Linked DNA regions of Homo sapiens. The protein of the gene in region 1 purifies or fractionates together with the protein of each later gene. This does not show direct contact. Each region holds a gene or a part of one and is shown in the gene's direction. Other genes may lie near its edges.

What was found.
Region 2: the proteins of ESS2 (region 1) and GALC purify together in Homo sapiens (co-immunoprecipitation; 3 studies listed by BioGRID and IntAct, with this or other methods). This does not show direct contact.
Region 3: the proteins of ESS2 (region 1) and PPP3R1 purify together in Homo sapiens (co-immunoprecipitation; 3 studies listed by BioGRID and IntAct, with this or other methods). This does not show direct contact.

What each region holds. Positions count from the first base shown.
Region 1 is NC_000022.11:19,129,039-19,135,596, reverse strand, and holds the end of ESS2 (splicing factor ESS-2 homolog), read left to right. Parts: intron 1-421; coding exon 422-537; intron 538-1,121; coding exon 1,122-1,401; 3' UTR 1,402-3,120; coding exon of another isoform or gene 3,121-4,197; 3' UTR 4,198-5,318; downstream 5,319-6,558. Other genes in the region: TSSK2 (testis-specific serine/threonine-protein kinase 2), read right to left, coding at 3,121-4,197. UniProt on the Homo sapiens protein: May be involved in pre-mRNA splicing.
Region 2 is NC_000014.9:87,934,183-87,941,186, reverse strand, and holds part of GALC (galactocerebrosidase isoform a precursor), read left to right. Parts: intron 1-1,205; coding exon 1,206-1,282; intron 1,283-6,308; coding exon 6,309-6,455; 3' UTR 6,456-7,004. UniProt on the Homo sapiens protein: Hydrolyzes the galactose ester bonds of glycolipids such as galactosylceramide and galactosylsphingosine.
Region 3 is NC_000002.12:68,242,533-68,249,536, reverse strand, and holds part of PPP3R1 (calcineurin subunit B type 1), read left to right. Parts: intron 1-7,004. UniProt on the Homo sapiens protein: Regulatory subunit of calcineurin, a calcium-dependent, calmodulin stimulated protein phosphatase. Confers calcium sensitivity.

The sequences.
Region 1 (6,558 bases):
CTTGACACAAGGTCTTGGCAAGGGTCTTCTGAGTAACAGCAGCAGAAAAGGAAAATGAGCCCCTTGAGAGCAAAATAGGCCACAGGCACACGGGGAAGCGCCCGAAATACAGAGCGCCGATAAAGACAGAGATGTTCACTCTGATAATCAGGGAAACACTAAAACAGACTGCTTTTTCCTGAGAGATTGTCAGAGGTCATGGTTTTGGGAGGAACACGAAGACAGGTGAGGAGTGCTGCGCCTTGGGCAGGTCAGGTGGGGTTTGGGGCTTTCCAGGGGCTTTTAGTGGGAGGTGATGGGTTGTGGGGGTTTTGTAGGCAACAAAGAGAGGCTGGCACCCACCACAGTGGCTTTCTGTGTGAGGGGCTGCCTGGCGTGTGGCAGGCCTGGCGCAGCTACCCACACACCTGCTACCTTGTAGATCCTGGAGCCAGGCCGCAGGGAGCGGCTGGGTCTGAAGATGGCCAACGAGGCCGCTGCCAAGAACCGGGCCAAGAAGCAGGAAGCCTTGCGGAGAGTGACGGAGAATCTGGCCAGGTGAGGGGCCGCCTGGCTGGTGGGGAAGTGCGAGGGTGGCTCTGGCCTGCTCCTGTTCGGCCCCTGCCCTGACCGTGTGGAGGCATGGCCCACGCGGCAGAGTCCAGGGCAGGTCCGCGGGGTTCTGCAGTGGGTACTGTGGCAGCTCCTCTATCCAGAGCATGGCCGCACATGGACAGGATGAGAGGCCCCCTCCATCTTCTCTTTCCTCCACGTCCTCTTTGACCCGTCCCTAAGAGGCATCTTTAGGCGTGTGGTCCTGCTGGGAGCTTTCATCAGCCCTGTGGAGAGAGTCATCGTTCCCCTTGGAGAGGGGTGGGGACTCCAACTCTCAGAGGCCTGGGGGTGCACCCCAGCCCCCACAGCCAAGGGCGGTGCTGCTGTTTGACCTCAGGTTTGACCTGAGCGCTGCTGTTTGACCTCAGGGATCCCCCGCATTTGCTGCCATGCTGGCAGTACCATCCTCCTCAGCTCAGAGTGACTGTGTCTCTGCCCAGGCTCTTCCTGGGAGCCAAGGGAGGCCCTGCTGCCGGCAGCTCTCAGCCCACCTAACCCTGCCTCTCTCACCCATTCCTCCACCCCAGCCTCACCCCCAAAGGCCTGAGCCCAGCCATGTCGCCAGCCCTACAGCGCCTTGTGAGCAGGACGGCCAGCAAGTACACAGACCGGGCCCTGCGGGCCAGCTACACACCATCCCCAGCACGCTCCACCCACCTCAAGACCCCGGCCAGTGGGCTGCAGACCCCCACAAGCACACCGGCGCCTGGCTCTGCCACACGCACCCCTCTCACACAGGACCCGGCCTCCATCACGGACAACCTGCTGCAGCTCCCTGCCCGGCGCAAAGCTTCGGACTTCTTTTAGAGCCAGGCCTGGGCTGGGCTCATAGACGCTTCACAGAGCCTGCAGGGCAGCTGTACACCCAGCAGAGGACTCCAGCCTTCTCGGGGCCCAGGCCTGGGCCAGAAGCTGTTGACCATACCAGGAGTCACTGGAGAAAGGGGCTGTGCTGGGGCCAGACTGGCACAAGGCACTCGTGCCCACACCACACCCCAGGGCCTTGCCAAGCTGTTTGCTGTTTAATTGGCCCCTTGAACTGTCATTAAAGAACACCTAGGTACAGTCTGGGGGGTTGCCTCTCCATCTTGCTCCCCACACGAGCCCTAGCCTTGCCCTGGGGCCTGCATCACGTCTCAGGACTGCGGGGCTTGAAGCGAGGGGCCCCCCAGGTGAGGAAGCTGCAGGTGGGGCGGCTGTGGGAGCACCGGGTGACTGGCGTTGCTTTCTGCGGCACTCGGAACCTGTGTTCTGAGTTGAGCTCACATCCTGCAGTGCTTTCTGCTTCTCTGGGGGGATATGAAGGAGAAACGGAGCCCTTGGAAGTTGTACCCTTAGGTTCCCCTGCGGTTCTGGGCCCAGGTCTGCAGCCTCCACTCTGGGCTTGCCGGCTGTGAGGTGCGCTGGTTATAGGACTGTGTGGGGGCTGCATATCAGGTGATCTCAGCTATCACCTTCTCCCAGCACCTGGCTTCCAGCTCATGGGGTGGGACTATCCCACTCACCCCTCTGCTATAGGCACTGCCCATCTTATGCTGCTGGCCCTGGCCTCACCTGGTCACTTCCACCAACAGGAGCTCCCAGATAACAGTGGGTTGCTGGACAGATCAGGCTGGGACTCTTAAGGGGTGGGGGACGTGGGGCCTTCAGTGCTTTATCCCCTAGGAAAGGGTGCACGTTATCCCAAGGGAGCCCCCAGGAAGTGGGGAGGGAGGGGGGAGGAGCATGTCTAGGTGCTGACCACCTGGAGCACTTGGCCAGCAAGTGGGCCGCATGCTTTGGGAGCAATGGGTGACCCAGCAGGAAGCACAAAAGACCGGCCAGTGTGCCATCATCAAGGGCTGCTGAGCAGCTTGAAGAGCCACTGGGTGGGGAGGGCACACGGGGAGGTCTCAGCTGGGGCTGCCCCTGGAGGACAGGGCAGGGAACTTGAGGGCTGAGGACAGAAATCTCACATGACTCCAGGAAATAGAGGAAGAGGAGGATGCTGAGCGAGGGATTGTGAGGGAGTGGGGGTAGGTCAGAGGGGGCTGAACTGCAGGAAGCCAGGGGGAGTCGTGGACCACTGGAGCTGGCCAGCCCCAGGGCATTGGGGACAAGGCCAGGTCAGAGGGAGACAGTGTGGGCCTGGTGGGTGGACCCTGGCAGAGGCCCTCTTGTCCCCCACAAGGCCAGGCCACACTGTGATTCTGCCTGTACCTGAGCATCTGTCCTGTGCTCCTAGGCCGGAGACCACTGTGTGTCAGGTGGGGCGGTTGGCTGAGTCCCAGAGAAAAACACTCCTCACTGGGCACTCTTGATGCTTGCACACACCCTGTGGTTTATTTGGTGGTCAGTAAGGAACGTCTTTGCTGCTAAGTGGAAGAAAGCTAATGGAACGTAATCAAAATAGTGGTTTAATTGACGAATTTTACTTGCACCTGTGCCTTCTTCAGATCCTACCTGCCTACTTAGTTTACGTGAAGGCCGACTGCACCATGCCCCCCAACCCCGACCCCCACCACACACAACGGGGCCATTGTCATGCTAGGTGCTTGCTTTCCCCACCTCAGCTCCGGAGATGTGATGGTCTTTGGCCCTGGAGGTCTCGGCCAGCCTGTCCTCCATCCTGTTCTCGTTCTCGGGCACCACCAGCAGCCGGTGCTGGGTTTTGGCTCCAAGCTTGTGGTCGGGCCGGTGGTCGGGCCTCAAGCCTGTCTTGGTGTCCAGTTTGCACTCAGCGCGGTACTTGCCCTCCCCCTCCCTCTTGAAGGAGGCAGAAGACGTGGCTTTGGGCTTGGGGGGCTGCAGCCACGAGTGGCTGAGGATCTCATCGATGTGGAGCCGCTGGCTGACGTCGGGCTGCAGCATGCGGTAGATGAGGTCCTTGCACTCGCAGGTCAGGTTCTTGGAGCGCGGGAAGTCCACACGGTGCTCCTTCTGGATACGCAGCATCTTCCTGATGTCGGAGTCGTCATAGGGCATGGAGCCGCAGACCATGATGTACAGGATCACGCCCAGGCTCCAGATGTCATACACCTTGGGCTGGTAGGGGATGCTCTGCAGCACCTCGGGGGCTGCATATGCTGCCGACCCGCAGAAGGTCTTGCTGAGGATGATGCGCCCATTGCTGTCCCGCAGGCAGCGCTTGGAGAAGCCAAAGTCAGACAGCTTGATGTTGAAGTCCTTGTCGAGGAGAAGGTTCTCGCACTTGAGGTCCCGGTGGACGATGTCCAGGTCGTGGCAGTACTTGACGGCGGAGGAGAGCTGTCGGAACATCTTGCGTGCCACGTCCTCATGCAGGGCTCCCTGGCACTTGATGAACTCGAGGAGGTCGCCCTGGACGCCAAGCTCCATGATGATGTAGATCCGTCCGTCAGAGGTCTCAAAGATCTCGTAAGTCTTGATGATGGAGCCGTGGTTGACAGTTGCCAGGATGTCCATCTCCCGAGGAAGGAATCTCTCCACAAAGTCAGTAGGTGTTTTCTTGCGGTCGATGATCTTGACAGCCACATTGAACTTGAGGCGCTCAGAGTAGGCAGATTTGACTTTTGCGTAGGAACCCTTGCCAAGATTGATGCCTACGATGTAACCCTTCTTCCTTAGGACTGTGGCATCGTCCATGGTGCCAGGAGCGACTGGCGCCGCTGCCGTCTACATCCCCCCGTCATGTGGGCCAGCAGGCATTGTCCTCATTTACACTACCGGAGGCGTCTGGCTGGGCTGCCCTGGGCTGGGCTTCGACTCAGGGGTGGAACACTCAGCATTGTCTCCGGGTGACTTCAGCCAATGAACTCATAAAGCCAAGGAGTGGGGGCGGGGACTGGGCTGAGGGAGAACAGGGTCTCTGGAACCGTGGAAGCCAGGCTGGTCTGGCAGGAGCACCCACTCCCCGCCCGCTGGAAGGAAGCCTGTCCCCAGGACAGGACTCTGGTGGCCCTGCTGCTGCTGCATTGGTTTCCCTGTCACAAGTCAAGCTGGAGGGGAGGCGGCCCACGTCCAGCCTGTTTGCATCACCTGGCTGTGGGGACTGACCCTGCATTGGTCTTTGTCCCACTAGGGTGGGTTTCCTGCAGCTTCTTTGGCTATGAAGAAAAGCACCCCCAGGGCTGTGTCCTTGGTGTGGTAGGACAGTTGTCCCTGACAGTCACCCAGACAGGCCTGCATAGCACCCCAGTTACACAGACAGATTTCCACAGCACTGCCTTACCATTGAGCACATAGTTAAATCTAGGGAAATCAGTGCCCAGACATCAAAGCTAGAAATGAAACATGGTCAGCAGGAGCCTTGCATGGGCTTCTCTTTTGCTGGAGCAAGCCAAAATAATAGGAACGGTTTTACATTCCTAGTGCCAGGACCCATCTCGGGTCGACAAAATCTGAAGACAAGTTAAGGGAACAGGCAGCTGTTTGAATAGATCAATTGGATAGTCTAAGGCAGCTCTCTGGACCAAGCTGTAAAGGAGATACAATCGAAATAATCACTCCGGTACCACAGTAGACAGGCCTTGAAGGCACTGGGCCCCTTTTAATCGGACTTAGCAAGCATTTTTTTTGCCTCTGACCTTCTCCTTGGAACAAAATTAGTTACCAGTAGACTTAGGTGATTGCTGTACTGCATGTAGGCACATAACCCCAACCTATATAAACAGTAAGAAAATTGTAGCACTTTGAGTTGGTCTGCTGGAATTATCTCCAGCCTTCTCCCTGTATCCAGTTACAGTGATAAACTCCCTTCTTTCCTAGTTTGTCTGCTTCTCGTTATTGGGCCTCAAGAAAATGCAGCTGGACCTGGCTTGGTTCTGGGAACAGTGGTACCTGGGAGGGACTGCCCTGGACCAGTCAGGCTGGCAGTGGTGCCAAGCCTGGTAGACGAAAGCAGCTCTGTGTTTGGGAGCAGAGGCGGCAGGCCCCTCAGGGTAGAGAGCCGGGCAGGTGAGTCGCTGCTGCTCCAGCGAGCAAGGGCCTGTGTATGGGTGGGTCGGGGCTGCAGTGCATGCCAGCTGGGTGCCCAGGGTCCAGGGCAGGTGGCTGCATGTCTGAGGGGTGGGGCAGGGCCTCCCTTGGGTAGAGGCGGCAGGAAGGCACCCAGGCAGCAGAGAGCCTGGGAGAAGAGAGGGCTTTTTCTGAAAGTGACTGGAAGTAGGAGGGAAGTGAAGGAGTCTCGGCTTTTTCTCTAAGCGGCAGCCTGCCCCTGCAGGTGCAAGACAGGAGGAGGGCCGTCCCAGTTGTGTTTTAAGATGGTCAGTGGCAGAGAGAGAGAGACAGAAAGAGTAGAATTGGCTTTGAGGTGAGAGTGGGGGCCAGTGCCTTTGACCAAATGAGAAGAGGCTGGGCCAGGGTGGGCCTCAGGATCAGCAGGAGACAGAGAAGGTCAGGTCTTAGTCTTGTTTGCTAGACTGTGAGTGGATGGGCCTTGGTGCTGGGGAATCCTGGGGCTGAGAGCGCCCAGGCCATGCACTGCAAAGACCAGGCACCTGGGTGAGGAGGGGGTTCTGAATCACATCAGTTTGGGCCTTTGTGTGGAGTGAGCAGCAGTCGCCTGTTGGAACCCTGACATTGGGTAGCATTTACGTCTCGGGCTGCCTTTTGCACCTGCAGTGTGAACATCCTGTTTCAGTGCTGGTGTGTGGATTTGTGCTTTGGGAAATGTGGCATCCTGTACATGTCTCCTCAGGTGCGTTGGACTGATGTTCATTTGTCATCCATCACAGGCATCCTGGATTCACAGGGAGCAGCTGGGACAGATGAGCTGTGTGTTCAGTGTTTAGGGGAGAGGGAGGAAGGCCTGTTCCCAGGTGGGGTTTAGTCCTGGAAGGTTTCAAAGAGGAAGTGATGTTGGAGCTGGGGTGCTGGGGATCAGCAGACTCCACAGGGTTGACAAGAGGGGCAGGACATGTCAGACAGATGTGACATCTTGGCCCTGGCATGGCTGTGTGGACCCACTCCATCTGGAGTACACAGGGAGCACCCTGTGTTTGGAGG
Region 2 (7,004 bases), on another chromosome or scaffold:
AAATAATTGTACAAAGCTTTTAAGGGTATTGTAGAGTTGAACTGGGCTGTGAGGATAGGATTTGCATAGATAGTATCAAAACCATCTGAGGTAGTGGTGGTAGGGAGAGAATGCTCAGGAGGCACCATAAATAAAAGCAAGAGTATACGACTGTTGCTGCTGTACCTATAGAAATATAAGGAGGGGAATTGATCGGCTTAAAATGGAAAAATCTCATTTTTGAATTTAGTTAATACTTGAAAATAGCTTGACTTTTCTCAGTCATCTTTACAGCCCTTGTGTTAGGTAGGATAATATTTTATCCAGAATAGGTGCTTCAAATATGTTCAGATTGAACTGTGTCCACTTCAGATTGGTTTTGATACACACCACTCCTTTGAAGCTAGACCTTACTGGTAGTGACTTTTCTTGATTCTCAGTCTCTTGACTTTCGTCTTACCTTAATTTAAAAATATCTCTTTTATAGTTTTCTGCTCTTTGCTTTGACTCCATAAATAAAATAAAAATTAAAGAGGAAGTAGGTAGTAAGGATATTAGAACAAGAGTTACATATTCATAGCATTACCAATCTGAACTTACCTCAGTGATACTGAAATCGAAAACATAGAACCAGTGAGGTTAATTGAGTGGCCTAATGACTCAAAGCTAGTTAGTGGCAGAACTGGAACTAGGAATTTAAATCTGTGTCTGCAGTCCCTATTGTCTGTTTTAAACCGCCTACTTGAAATTTTGTCCTGGGTTTCTCATAGGCATTCAAATAACACTAATTCCAAAAATTAACTTACTATTTTCTCCCTCTAAGTTAATACTATTACCATGTGACCAATTAGACTGGCTGGAAATTTTATATTCTGTCTCTCTTGTCTTCCATATTCAATCCAGTCATGTATAAATGTGTACTTGAACTACAGATGCTAACACCTCATACTATCACTGGTTTTTAAGTTTATTTCACTGGTTCTGTTGTGAGCTCACATATAGTATATGGCTCAGAGTAGGATCTCAGTATATGCTATTAAATGCATGGCTAAATGAAAAATGTTTTGGCTTAACTCAGTTGTAGATCTGGGAATGAAGGGACATAGCTCTCTGTTGAGGCTGACTTTACTACATACAGATGCCACTCAAGAACCCCACTGAATTATATGATTCTGTGATTGAGATCTCAAAATTATATCTATTGGGATAATATTTTTGTGTTACAGCTGGATGGATTATATATGCTTTAGGACGTGTTGAAGTTACAGCAAAAAAATGGTATACACTCACGTTAACTATTAAGGTAAGTATTGCTGATTGGAGTCTGGAGGTAAAATGCTCTTTTGTTGTGCATTTCTATAATTTTCTGTTATAAAATAGGAGGGGGAAAGTGTGACATATAATGAAGAGAGACAAAGAATCTGCCTTGGTGCCGGGAAGCCACTCATCCCTAGGATAGTTACATGTGTGAGGGTAACCTATGTGAGAACCATCAGCAGTTGACTTTATCAGGTCACTATTTTTTTAAAAAATTTTATTTTGTTTTTTAAACTGAGGCATAATTGATAGAGTCAATAATTGAACTATTTTTTTCAAGTTTGCTTGAACCAAGACTGTACATGGAGCTTATAGATGTAAGCAAAGCCATATGCATTTATTTTTGATGGTTAAGAATAATTTGGTTTTCAATTATAAGCATAATTTTTAGAAATTGGTTTCCATGAATATTTTAGTCAGAGAAAATACCAGATTAATTTTAGTATAATAGAAATATAAAAATGTTCCTGAGAATCACTGGGTGATCATGAGTTACTGCTCGACAGTGCTTCCAAGGGATGCTGTGCAGATAAATTTTTGTGTATAATGTGTTGGTCTCTCCCAAGATAGCTCTCTCACAATTTTGTTTAGAGTGCAGTAGAAATTAAAAATCAGATTCCAATAACTTTGGAATTTGTTCTCTCAACCACCAAAAATGACAGCACTAATTATTTTTTAGCATTAACAATATGTATATTGAAGATTTGGTTTGGATGTAGCATAGATTATTTAACTATACCACACTAGCCAAATTGTAGCCATTTTATAGCAATTATAATAATATTCACTATTATTGAATTTGAAGATTTTTTCCAAACTCATAGATATGATTTGTATTTCCTTGATAATTAGGGAGCTTGCACATCTAATGTTTACTGGCTATTTGTATTTTCTCTTCTCTGAAGTTGCCTGTTCACTTCTTTCTTCATTTTTCTATCATGTTGTCTTTTTCTGGCAAATTTGTGTGAATTTAATATGTATTCTGGATAGTAACCCATTGTCTGTTACATACGTCACAACTATGCTCTTCCTTCATGTGTATTCTAATTTTGCTTATGGTATTTTTGATGATTATAAGTTTTACATTTTGATACTGTCAAATATTTCACTTTTTATTCATTGCTTTTATGTTTCATGTTTTAAATAAGGCCTTCTTGTTTCTCAAGGTTAGGAACATTTTTCCCCCAAGCTAAACAAAGTTTAGGATTTATTTTTATGTGTAAGTCTTTAATACGTCAGAAATTTACTTGTGAATTGTAAGGGGAAGTACTGAATATAATTTTTTAAAAAATGGATAGCCATCATTTATTACAATGGACTATCCTTTTGCCCATAATTTAAAGGCTACCTTTTTGATGTAACAAATCAGCACATGTGCACATGCTTGTTTCTGAACTTTTTTCTGTTCTCCATATTGATGTTTGTCTATTATTATCCAAAATCACGCTTTTAATTGGTGTTCACATTCTAAAAGCTTTGATGATACAGCTACTCCCTTGCTTCCTTCAGAGTTTTCTTACCTGACCACCTGATAGAAAACAGCGCCCCATCTCACTCTCTAACTCCTTTCTGTTGCTTTATTTTTCTCCAAAAGTTTTATCCCAAGCTGACATCACACATATTCTGTTAATTGTTCATGTGTTTTCCTACTCCCTTCACTAGCACATAGCTCCTTTAGTGACAGGCTTTTCTCCATATTCCTCACTGCTGGCTCTGTAGCACCTAGAAAAGTGCCTGACAGCCAGGCAGAGCAAGAGTCCGAATAATACTTGGTAAATGAATGAATGGATATCTGGTGGGGCAACTTCCTCATTGTTTCTTTTTCAAAATTATCTTTGCTATTCCACTATATATATTATTCGATTTGACTTTTAAAAAACAAACTTTCAGTTACTTGAAAAATGGTGCTGGTATTACATTAAATTTACACATCAATTTAGGAAAAAATGACTTTTTTTTTTTTAACAATAATGTGTTTCCCCATGAGAGAACACAGGAACAAAAGCATGCTATATTTCACCATTTATTAAGATTTGCCACTATGTCCTTCAGTTTTATTTTTGCAAACTTTTGATTAGGTTTGTTTTAGTAATTTTATGAGTTTTTTTGAAATCATGAATGAGATTTTAAAAATTTTCTTAATTTTTTTCAGGTACTTTGCATACCTGGTTAAAATATCAATAGGATGTGAGGCATCTTGCCTCACATCCTGTTCCTTCTTCTTGACCCCATTCTGTGTCTTGTACTTCTGATACAGCCACTCTTCACTATTTTAGCTGTTTCTTCTGGTGTGTCTTTAATACAATGTGATTCATTACTTTTAAAAATTGGCTCTTGTCTTGCTACTAGGATGGATAGGACTTTGCTGGCTTGCACCCACCTCACTCCCCTACTCCTGTTATTTTGTGTTTCATCAACTATGGGCATTCTGTTTCCTCTTGAATCTCAGCTTTTGCCACATACTCTGAGGGTCTTCTGTAACTATCTGCACTAAAGTAGTCTGTCAGGCACCCATTGTCACCTTGACCTGGCTTAATTTTTACATGCTACTTATCTTTTAGCTCTCATTTTGTGTGTGTGTGCATATCTGTCCATCTCCTACTAGAATATAAGCTCCATAAGAGCAGGGACCTTGTCTTTCTTGTTCATCTTAAATTCCCAGTGCATTAAACAGTATTTGACATATAAATCTTCTTTGCGTAAATAAAAAAAACAAAACATCATCTTCTATGTTGCCCATATTCCAAATTACAGCTAATGTGAGGATTTTGTCACTGACTATCAGCCACCTGTTGAATTCTTCTCAGCACTTGTCAGGTGACTTGTCCCAGTTCTGTTGCATGGTGGGTAGCACAATGGACTTTGAAGTCTACTATATTCTACTTGCAAGTATTTTATATTGCACAGCTTCAATTTTCCCATCCATGATATCATGAAGAACACTTTTCTTATGAAGATTCAATGAGAAAATAAATAAATATATATATATATATAGTACCTGATATGTGGTAAGCACTTAATGAGTCAAGTTAATATTTTTAGGAGTAGGAGTGTTTGGAACCAGACAGACCAGCATTCGTATTTCCTCACTAACACATGCTGAGACTTCTAGCAAGTTATTCCACCTCTTTGAGTATCCATTTCCTTATCTGCAAAATGGAGATAACTTCTGTGAGGTTGTTTTGAGGGTTAAATGTGTTTCATTCTTATATTCAACACATTTTTATTAAGCCCCTACTGTATGCACTTTACTAAGTCCTAGGGATACAGCAGCGAACGAAACAGACAAGATTCCTGCTCTCTTAGAGCATATATTCTTCTAGGACAGGGGTTGGCAACTTTTTCTGTAAAGGGCCAGATAGTAAATATTTTAGACTTCGTGGGCCATGTGGTCTCTGCTGTGGCTACCCAGTTCGGCTATTGTAATGAGTAAAAAAGCCATAGACAATAGACAATAATGAGAAAAAAAGCCATAGACAATGGATGTGGCTGTGTTTCAGTAAGATTTTATTTATTAAAAAAAGGGCGGTTGGCATGTAGGTCATAGTTTGCTGAGCCCTATCCTGAGATAATAAACTTGTAAATAAGTTTATAAATGATTATGAAGAAAAAATAGAGTCATGAGATAAAGTAGCTCTGTTACCCTGATTCTCTAACCAGGGAGGTGAGGAAAGACCTCACTGAGTGGGTAGTACTTGAGTGCAGACCTGAATGCTGGGAAGAACAATTTGAGCAGACCAAGTGGCAGGTGCAAAAGGCAGGTGTAGCTGACATTGTGTGAAGAGCAGCCTGGAGGCTGGGGTGGCTGAAGTCTGGGGAGTCAGGAGAGATAAGGTCCTGTTAGACAGGTTTTGTGCTTAATGTGATCTGTGATTTGAGTCCCTTGGCTCGGTGTTAATATTGAGTGTTTGATGGCAGCAGAAGATGTTCAGTAAGCACTTCTAGAGCTGAAGATAGCTGTGCAAGTCTGTAGTAATAGGAATGTGGCTCTGAATTTGGAGCTAGGTAACTTGGAGTGAAAACCTGTGACTTTGAGCTTTAATCTATTAAGCCTCAGTGTTTCCACGCATAAAATAAAAGAACTAAATTAAGGCCCATTACGTTATACTTCCAAGACTTAAAAGCAGATTTATTCTGGTTCTTGGCCCAGTGCTTTGAGTTTTGAGCTCTTCACCTTCTGAGAGTAGCTAGTTTTATATGATTGACTGTAGTTAGTATGCTGTGAATATGTGCTCATAAATGTACTATCATAAAGATAATAAGAGCTGAGATTTATTGTTTACCATGTGCCAGGCACTGAGCTAAGTAGAATGGCAACATTCGGAGGAAGGTGTAATTTTTTCTTTCACTGTCAGTGACCAGTAAGTCACACCTTATAGATGCCTCCCTTCTTCCACCCGCTGCACCCTACTCCAGCATCACTTTAACTGATGGTTACTGTTTTTCCAACTTAAGGGTAGGAGCTTCATATGGCTTTGAAGTGATATTCTATTCATGGCAACAAAACACAAAAACTAAGGTTAATTATTTTTCTTCTGGCTGGGCAGAGGCTCCTTAATGAAAACCTTAAGGAAGCAATGAGGTAGAAGCAGATGTTTTGACTCCAGCAGTCATGTCTGAAGAGCTGGTGGCTGTTAGCCACACCACTTGTACATGTGACTACTTATAAATAACTTTTGTTAAATTTTAATGAGCTTTTTTCTAAAACTTTATAATAATGCCTGAAAAGTTTTGCATTTTGTTGGTTTTAAATTTTGGTGGAGCACAGGAAATATTGAGGTATTCCTTGTACTTTGGGAACGATTTAAGTAGGTAGATAAGAATTTCTTCCTAGAGTTTTTTCCTGTATTTTAAACTTTTGCTCAAACTTGTGGAATTGTGTTTTGCTGTGGTTAAGTCTTGAGTGAGTAGTACATTTGCTCCACTAAGTAGTGGGCCATACATGATCAAGAAACAGACTTCAGAGGACCATTTTCATATGGTTTCAAGGAATGTGTTTCTTTCTACTCTAGGGTCATTTCACCTCTGGCATGCTGAATGACAAGTCTCTGTGGACAGACATCCCTGTGAATTTTCCAAAGAATGGCTGGGCTGCAATTGGAACTCACTCCTTTGAATTTGCACAGTTTGACAACTTTCTTGTGGAAGCCACACGCTAATACTTAACAGGGCATCATAGAATACTCTGGATTTTCTTCCCTTCTTTTTGGTTTTGGTTCAGAGCCAATTCTTGTTTCATTGGAACAGTATATGAGGCTTTTGAGACTAAAAATAATGAAGAGTAAAAGGGGAGAGAAATTTATTTTTAATTTACCCTGTGGAAGATTTTATTAGAATTAATTCCAAGGGGAAAACTGGTGAATCTTTAACATTACCTGGTGTGTTCCCTAACATTCAAACTGTGCATTGGCCATACCCTTAGGAGTGGTTTGAGTAGTACAGACCTCGAAGCCTTGCTGCTAACACTGAGGTAGCTCTCTTCATCTTATTTGCAAGCGGTCCTGTAGATGGCAGTAACTTGATCATCACTGAGATGTATTTATGCATGCTGACCGTGTGTCCAAGTGAGCCAGTGTCTTCATCACAAGATGATGCTGCCATAATAGAAAGCTGAAGAACACTAGAAGTAGCTTTTTGAAAACCACTTCAACCTGTTATGCTTTATGCTCTAAAAAGTATTTTTTTATTTTCCTTTTTAAGATGATACT
Region 3 (7,004 bases), on another chromosome or scaffold:
AAATGAACATAATATAAAGGTAATTGTTTTACGTTTTGTTTCTTAAGGGAACTTTAAATTTTATAAAGGCCTTTTCATGTCTTTGTGCTTTTAAACTTTTAAATTTTTTTTTATCTCCATGATCTGCATCTAGAACTTAAAACAAATTTATTGCCGTCTATAACTGTATGTAGAGTTTTACACAACATATTCTAGTTCAGATTCTGTGGCAAAGGCCACTTTTTAGAAAAAAAAAAACCTGTCTTATGACCAGCGGAATTAAAATTCACATCTGTCCTGAGAAAATTTATCCACTCATTTTGTCCCATAGTGAATGAGAAAATTAAAATGGTTCAAGGTATAAAGTAAAGAAGCTGACTAAGGGTCAGTCAGCAATGAGAGGGACAGACAAGTATGGAAGGATCAGGCAACTGTTATAGGTAGTAAGGCAGTATAAGGAAGTCACCTTGGGCCAGGAGGATATTAAGTCAGACAGTGGGCCTGGAGTCTGGGGCAAGCAACAGGGATTCATTCCTATCAACAAATACTTGTAGATTTTGTCTGCCGTTTACTGGTTGTTGTGCTCTCTGTTGTGGAGGATATTGCAATGATTAAGGCAGGTTTCCTACCTTCATTTAAGTAGAGAATGTAAGACAAATGGCAGTAACCGTGAAGTAAGTTAGCATGTGATGAGTGTCATATGAATAGTACACACAAAGCATGATAGAAATTTAAGAAGGAGCAAGATCATTTTCACCTGGGATTAGGAAAAGTTTTATGAAGGAGGTGGTAATTGAGCTAGCTGGGTCTAAAAAGATCAGCGTTGCAGTAGGCAGAGTTGGAGGCATCTAGAAGAAGGCACTTTAAATCCTAAAGGGAGGAAGAGACAATGTACATTTGGAGCACTGATGGTTCCCGAACCAACAGCAACAGCATCATCTGGAAACTTGTCAGGCCCCACCCTGGAACAACTGAATCCAAAATTCTGGAGATGAGCCAAGCAGTCTTAAGTTTTATAGGTCTTCCAGGTAATTGTGATATAGGCTGAACTTTGAGAACCACTGTTTAGAGAATAGGAAGGAATGTGTAAAGTTGAGTCAAGCGTCTCTTAATGTACCTAGCACTAACTATATGTACTTAAGACATAATTGTTATCTACAAGGAAATTAATCAAGTAGGGTAAATAAGACAGTGATTATGCAGTGTGCTATGTGCTATTAACAGACTAAACATGGGATGCTGTAAGAGCACATGGCAGGGAAGAGGCTTAATCCACACTGGGGATGAATGTCACTTAAAGTTTCCTGGAAGAAATGGTGTCTGAACTGAGTCTTGAAAGGATGAGTATTTAGCCAGTGAGGAAGGGCACACCACATAGAGAGCTTCTGTTCGAAGTCATGGAAGCATGAGATATACAAGCCATCCAGAGAACTACAGTGTTAGTTTAGCGTGGCTGGAGAGGAAGGGGGTAGTGTCTGGTGGATTGACACTAGATCATAGAGGGATTTGCATATCATGAAGGAGTTAATCTTTTTTCTCCTAAAAGCAGTGGGAAGTTATTTTCAAGCAGGAGAATGACATTGTCTCATTTACTTTTTTAAAGAGACCATTCTGATGGCCGGGTGGATAATAGGATAGATGAATCTAGACATGAGGATTCAGAAATAATTATAGTAATTTATATGAGACAGAAGGATGTGAAAGAATACAGTAACAATGCAGATAGATAGTAGGGATCCTACAGGAGATACATTTAGGCGGTAGAAGAAAGAACTTGGTAACTATTGGATTATGGGGAAGAAAAGAGGTGGTGAATTCTGCTTTGGTTTCTGGCTTTGGATAATGCTATCCACCCAGCAAATATTTGTTGAGCACCTACTTGGTTAAGGTTAGGTTTTAGGAATACATGGGGAATACTGTTCCTGTCCTCGAGAAACTTCCAGTTTGCTGGGATGACTATTGTTTCATCTCTAGGCTTCTATTATTTGGTAATTAGTGCTTGGGATGCTATGTTGCAAGACTCCAATTTCAATAGGATAGAGTGCTGTGAAATATTAACAGTGCCTGCTACATACATGTCATGGCCTAGGAGAAACAGAAAGAACTTGATAGCCTGGAGGTAGAAAGAGGCACATGTGTTTGAACAGTGATTCTCAAGAAGTGGATCCTGGACTAGCAGCATCAGTATCATTTGGGACCTTGTTAGAAATGCACATTCTCCTAGGAGATGTAGGAGAAGAAGGTTTTGGGGGAGTGATGAGAATTTTTATTTTTGCACATGCTGAATTTAAAGGAATCATGGGTGGGCTAGGCACAGTGGCTCATCCCTACAATCCAAGCACTTTGGGAGGCCGAGGCAGATGGATCTTGGGCTCAAGAGTTCCAGACCAGCCTGGGCAACATGGTGAAAGCCCATCTGTACAAAAATACAAAAATTAGGCGGGCACAGTGGCACACGCCTGTAGTGCCAGCTACTCAGGAGGCAGAGGTGGGAGGATGGCTTGAGCTTGGGAGGTGGAGGTTGTGGTGAGCCAAGATTGTGTGACTGCACTCCAGCCTGGGTGACAGAGCAAGACTGTTTTGGGGGGCGGGAGGTGGGCAGGGAATAGTAATCTTGGGTTATCTAGGTGATTATGGCCAACAGGTAATTGGCTACCTATATCTGGAGCTCATAAGAGACATCTGGGGCTTGCATTAAAGATTTGAGCATTGTCTGTGCATTTATATTAGGTAGTAGTTGAAGCCGTGAAACTGGATGAAATCCTGTGTAGAGAGAATATAAAATGAGACGTGAAGAGAGTGAACTCTAAAGATGGTGCATGTAAAAAGGCAGGTAGAGGATGAGGAGCCTGTGAAGTTTGTCATTGAATAGCCAGAGAGATAGTTGGGAAATGAGCAGCATAGCATGATGCCAGATTGAAGGGAGTCTTAAAGAGGAAGGAGTCAGCAGTGAATAGATACTGCAGAGATCAAGAAAGAGAACTTAAAGATGTCTTTTGGAGATAACAGGAGAGTTTTGATGACTTGGTCAATAGTAGTTTGTTGTAATGGTGGCAAGGGAAGCCAGGAGGTAGTGAGACATTGAATTTAGATTGCTTTTTAAAGCTTTGAGTAGCAGAGAGGGTGAAAGCTAGAGAATTTAGTTTTGAGGAAGGATTTATCTTGGGGTTGAAAGAAAAAGTCAGAGCCGGGCACGGTGGCTCACTCCTGTAATCCCAGCACTTTGGGAGGCTGAGGCGGGCGGATCATGAGGTCGGGAGTTAGAGACCAGCCCGACCAATATGGTGAAACCCTGTCTCTACTAAAAATACAAAAATTAGCCGGGTTTGGTGACGCGTGCCTGTAATGCCAGCTACTTAGGAGGCTGAGGCAGGAGAATCACTTGAACCCGGGAGGCGGAGGTTGCAGGGAGCTGAGATTGTACCAGTGCACTCCAGCTTGGACGACAGAGCAAGACTCTGTCTCAAAAAAAAAAAAAAAAAAAAAAAAAGAAAGAAAGAAAAAGTCAGTAAAAAGGGTAAAAAGGGAGAGATTATCTTTTGAATCTTTTCAAAGAGAAAAGACAGGATTATTGACAACTTAATGTCTCCAAGGAGGTAGAAGGGAGTTTATGACTCTCCTTAGACAAGAAGGGGAATTTTTCTCATCCTTTTAACATGAAAGAGAAGGAGAAAAAGATGAAAACTATTATGTAGGTCATATAAGAGTTTAGGCTGGAAAGGAAGTCATGTGTTAAGTTGTAAATGGTTTAACTGTTTTGAGTTCAGTTTGGTCCCATTGGGGAACCATTGATTAATCTGGAAATAAGATGCTGGGTGACTTGGAAAGGGTGGAAACTAGATGAGGTGAGTTCCACAAAGGAATACTGCTTTATAGTATTACAAGTATGAAGTTATAAGGATTTGAAAGCAAATAAAAATGGAGGCATTTTAAATATAGAGTTGAAAAGAGTTAGAAACTGATGATGAGGAAACAGTCATGAAGGATGACCCAACCTAGTGATTAGATATAAAGATAGCACATTACAAATAAAACCAGGAAAGTAAGAGTGAGTTGCTGGTGAAAAGTAGTGTTAGAAGAAGGTGAGCTTGGTTTTAGATAGTTAATTTGATAGGCTTGAGACATTATACTGTAATTATTTAACAAATGTGATAATGTACTTGGAAAATAAACTGAATAATTTTTTTTTCTTTTTGGAGACAGGATCTTGCTATTTTGCCCAGGTTGGAGTGCGGTGGTGCGATCTCAGCTTATTGCAGCCTCCACCTCCCAGGCTCAAGCCATCCTCCCTCCTCAGCCTCCCAAGTAGCTGAGACTACAGGTGCACACCACTACACCCAGCTAATTTTTGTGGAGACAGGGTCTTGCCATGTTGCGCAGGCTGGTCTCAAACTCCTGAGCTCAAGCAGTCTGCCCACCTTAGCCTCCCAGAGTGCTGGGATTACAGTCGTGAACCACCAGGCCTGGCCTAGAAGTAGAATATTTGAGTCAGGGTAATAGCTGATTGGATAGTTGTAAAGATGAAGATTAAGAAAATACTGATGGAATGGTCATTAGAAGAATATTGATAATTTTTAAGACTAACTTCAGTCATGTCCTAGGTGACAAACATAAGATTGCAGGGGAAAGTAAACTCTGTGAATGCAGAAGCCTTGTCTTTGTCTTTTCGTTCTTATATTCCAGATACTTGGTATATGGTAGATGTTAAGTACTATTTGAAGGAGTATGTGAAGTGGAATAAAGGAAAAGGTGCTTATCGGACATTGAAGGCAGTGAGTGTCAGTTTCTTTTTTTTTTGAGACATTTATGAAAGAAAGACAAAGGATAATTAACTTCAGTGGTTTACAGTTGGAGTAAGTTCTTTTTTGGTAAGAGAAAGATGGGGATATTCTTGAGAATTAGAAAAGCCAGGAGAGGGAGCTGTAAGAGCGTGATTAATGGAATGAGCTCTAGAAAAGTTAAAAAGAAGAGGATAAAAGGAAAGGATAGACATTAAAAGAGAGAGAAAAAATCAGAGTGAAGAGAAATAGGCCATGGCAACAGATATGTTTTAATAATGGAGTTCATAGCAGGTGGCCTAAATCATCTTAGTATCTCAGGATAATTTGAGGCAAGTTAATTTGCTGAGGTTGACATTGAGCCTGAGGGAACTGGGGTGGTTTTGAGGGGTGAGGGCTGTGGAAGAGGATTGTGTTATCCAGTTTGGGGAATTGTTAGGCAGTTAACAAGGTAATAAATAAATATAACTAAATGGTAGCTAGGACCTAGGAGAAGGCAGCAGTTGGTCAGTGACCTAGGAAATAAATCTAGAAAACAGGGGTTTTAACCAGAAAAGAGCTTAATACTTTGGCAGTCTTTGCTTTATTAACTCAGATTTGTTCTTCTGATCAATTTACATAGGTCTAAAAGGAATCATTTTTTGAGTTCAGCTTTTAAGGAAGGGGAAACATGTTTTAGATCCGTATGTTAATTTTTTTTCCCTAAAGTTCTAAAGACACTACATTAATGTAGTCACTTAAAAATTCAAATGATATTGAAAGATCTAAAATGGAAAGTAAGTCTTCCCTGGCCACCCCTCCCCCAGTATTAAGTTTCTTGTTTATATATTCTTCGAAGAGTTTTTTGTGTGGGGTTTTTTTCCTTCCTTTTTTTTCCCGCCTGTGGCAACATATGGATTTTATTATAATTTAGTTCTTATTAAAAAGATTGATCGTAAAAGTTTTAATGATACGCTACTTATTACAAACTATAAGTAAACTCATAGTTTACTCATTACAATCAGTTTTAGTCCAAAGTTTTAATGGTATTTTAAATGTAAACAATGAGTCAGAAATAATTGATAAATCTAATTAGGTAACAATTTTATAGTGATAGAGGTTGTTACTTTAACGAGGGTCTGAACTATGACCATGTTCTTAAGAAATTACTCTGGGGAAAATAACATTTTACTAGAACTTTTTTTTGTACTTATTTCTACCTAATATCTTATTAAACATAACATGGATAACAAATTATTAAAAGAGAAAATAGCTTCTGAAGTATAATGGATAAAGCGTCTTTTTTAACTCAAGCTTGATTGTTTAAAATTTATTCCTCATTTTTACCCTTCCAAGTAAGCCTTTTCTCCAGTAGCCCTCATCTTTTCTTCCCTTTCTGAATTTTCTCCATAGACTCCATAATAAAGGAAACTTATGGTCAACATCTCCTCAGTGTTTGTGAATTGACAGTATAATTCTGACTAATTTATAGGTCTGGCGCAGGAATAACATTTTGATAAATGTATTCCTGGGTTTGTCTTTGGATTTTATAGTCTTGTACTATGAAATATTTAAAATGTTTGAAGATTTCTGTAGGAAATCTTTTGAAATTTAGCACTAATAATTTAAACAATTCATAGATTCCTATACTGTTCTTCCTCATAGAGTTTTGTTTTGTTTTTTAAATATTTCTTGTAAGTAGTAAAAAGAGGGCCAAATTGGTAGCCCTGTTGGTATCCCAAAAAAACATTCCTGTAGATGAGATGTTACATTGACTTGTTTTTCTGGTGTTGGTAAAATCACTGGTGCGTTGACCAGCTCTTTTTCTAAAGAACACAGAGTATTCATTTTTATTTTTATGTTAGAATTAGGTATGCATTTTAAAACCTAGTTACAATAGAATGAAGCATAGCAGCCTACAGAAAGGATGTTACCCTTGGCCCTTACTAGCGCTATCCATTAGTATTTTATTTTTAATCTGTCTAGATTCAGGGATGATTTTCTTTCATATCCTCCTGAGTGTAATGCCATAAGCAAGCCCCTATTTTAGGCATGCAGTATGCTGGCATTGTCTAGTATTTCTTGTAAGGCAATCTTTAATAAAAATTGGAATCTCAGGAAAAACACGTGATAATGGGCAATAAGATAAATCTGTACTTACATATTTGTTCATGGTGCACCTGTGTTCCCTAACAAATAGAATTTCATGAATTATAAACTAACTTATACTCTTTCTCAAGTAAAGAGTGAACTTATAATCAGAGGAAT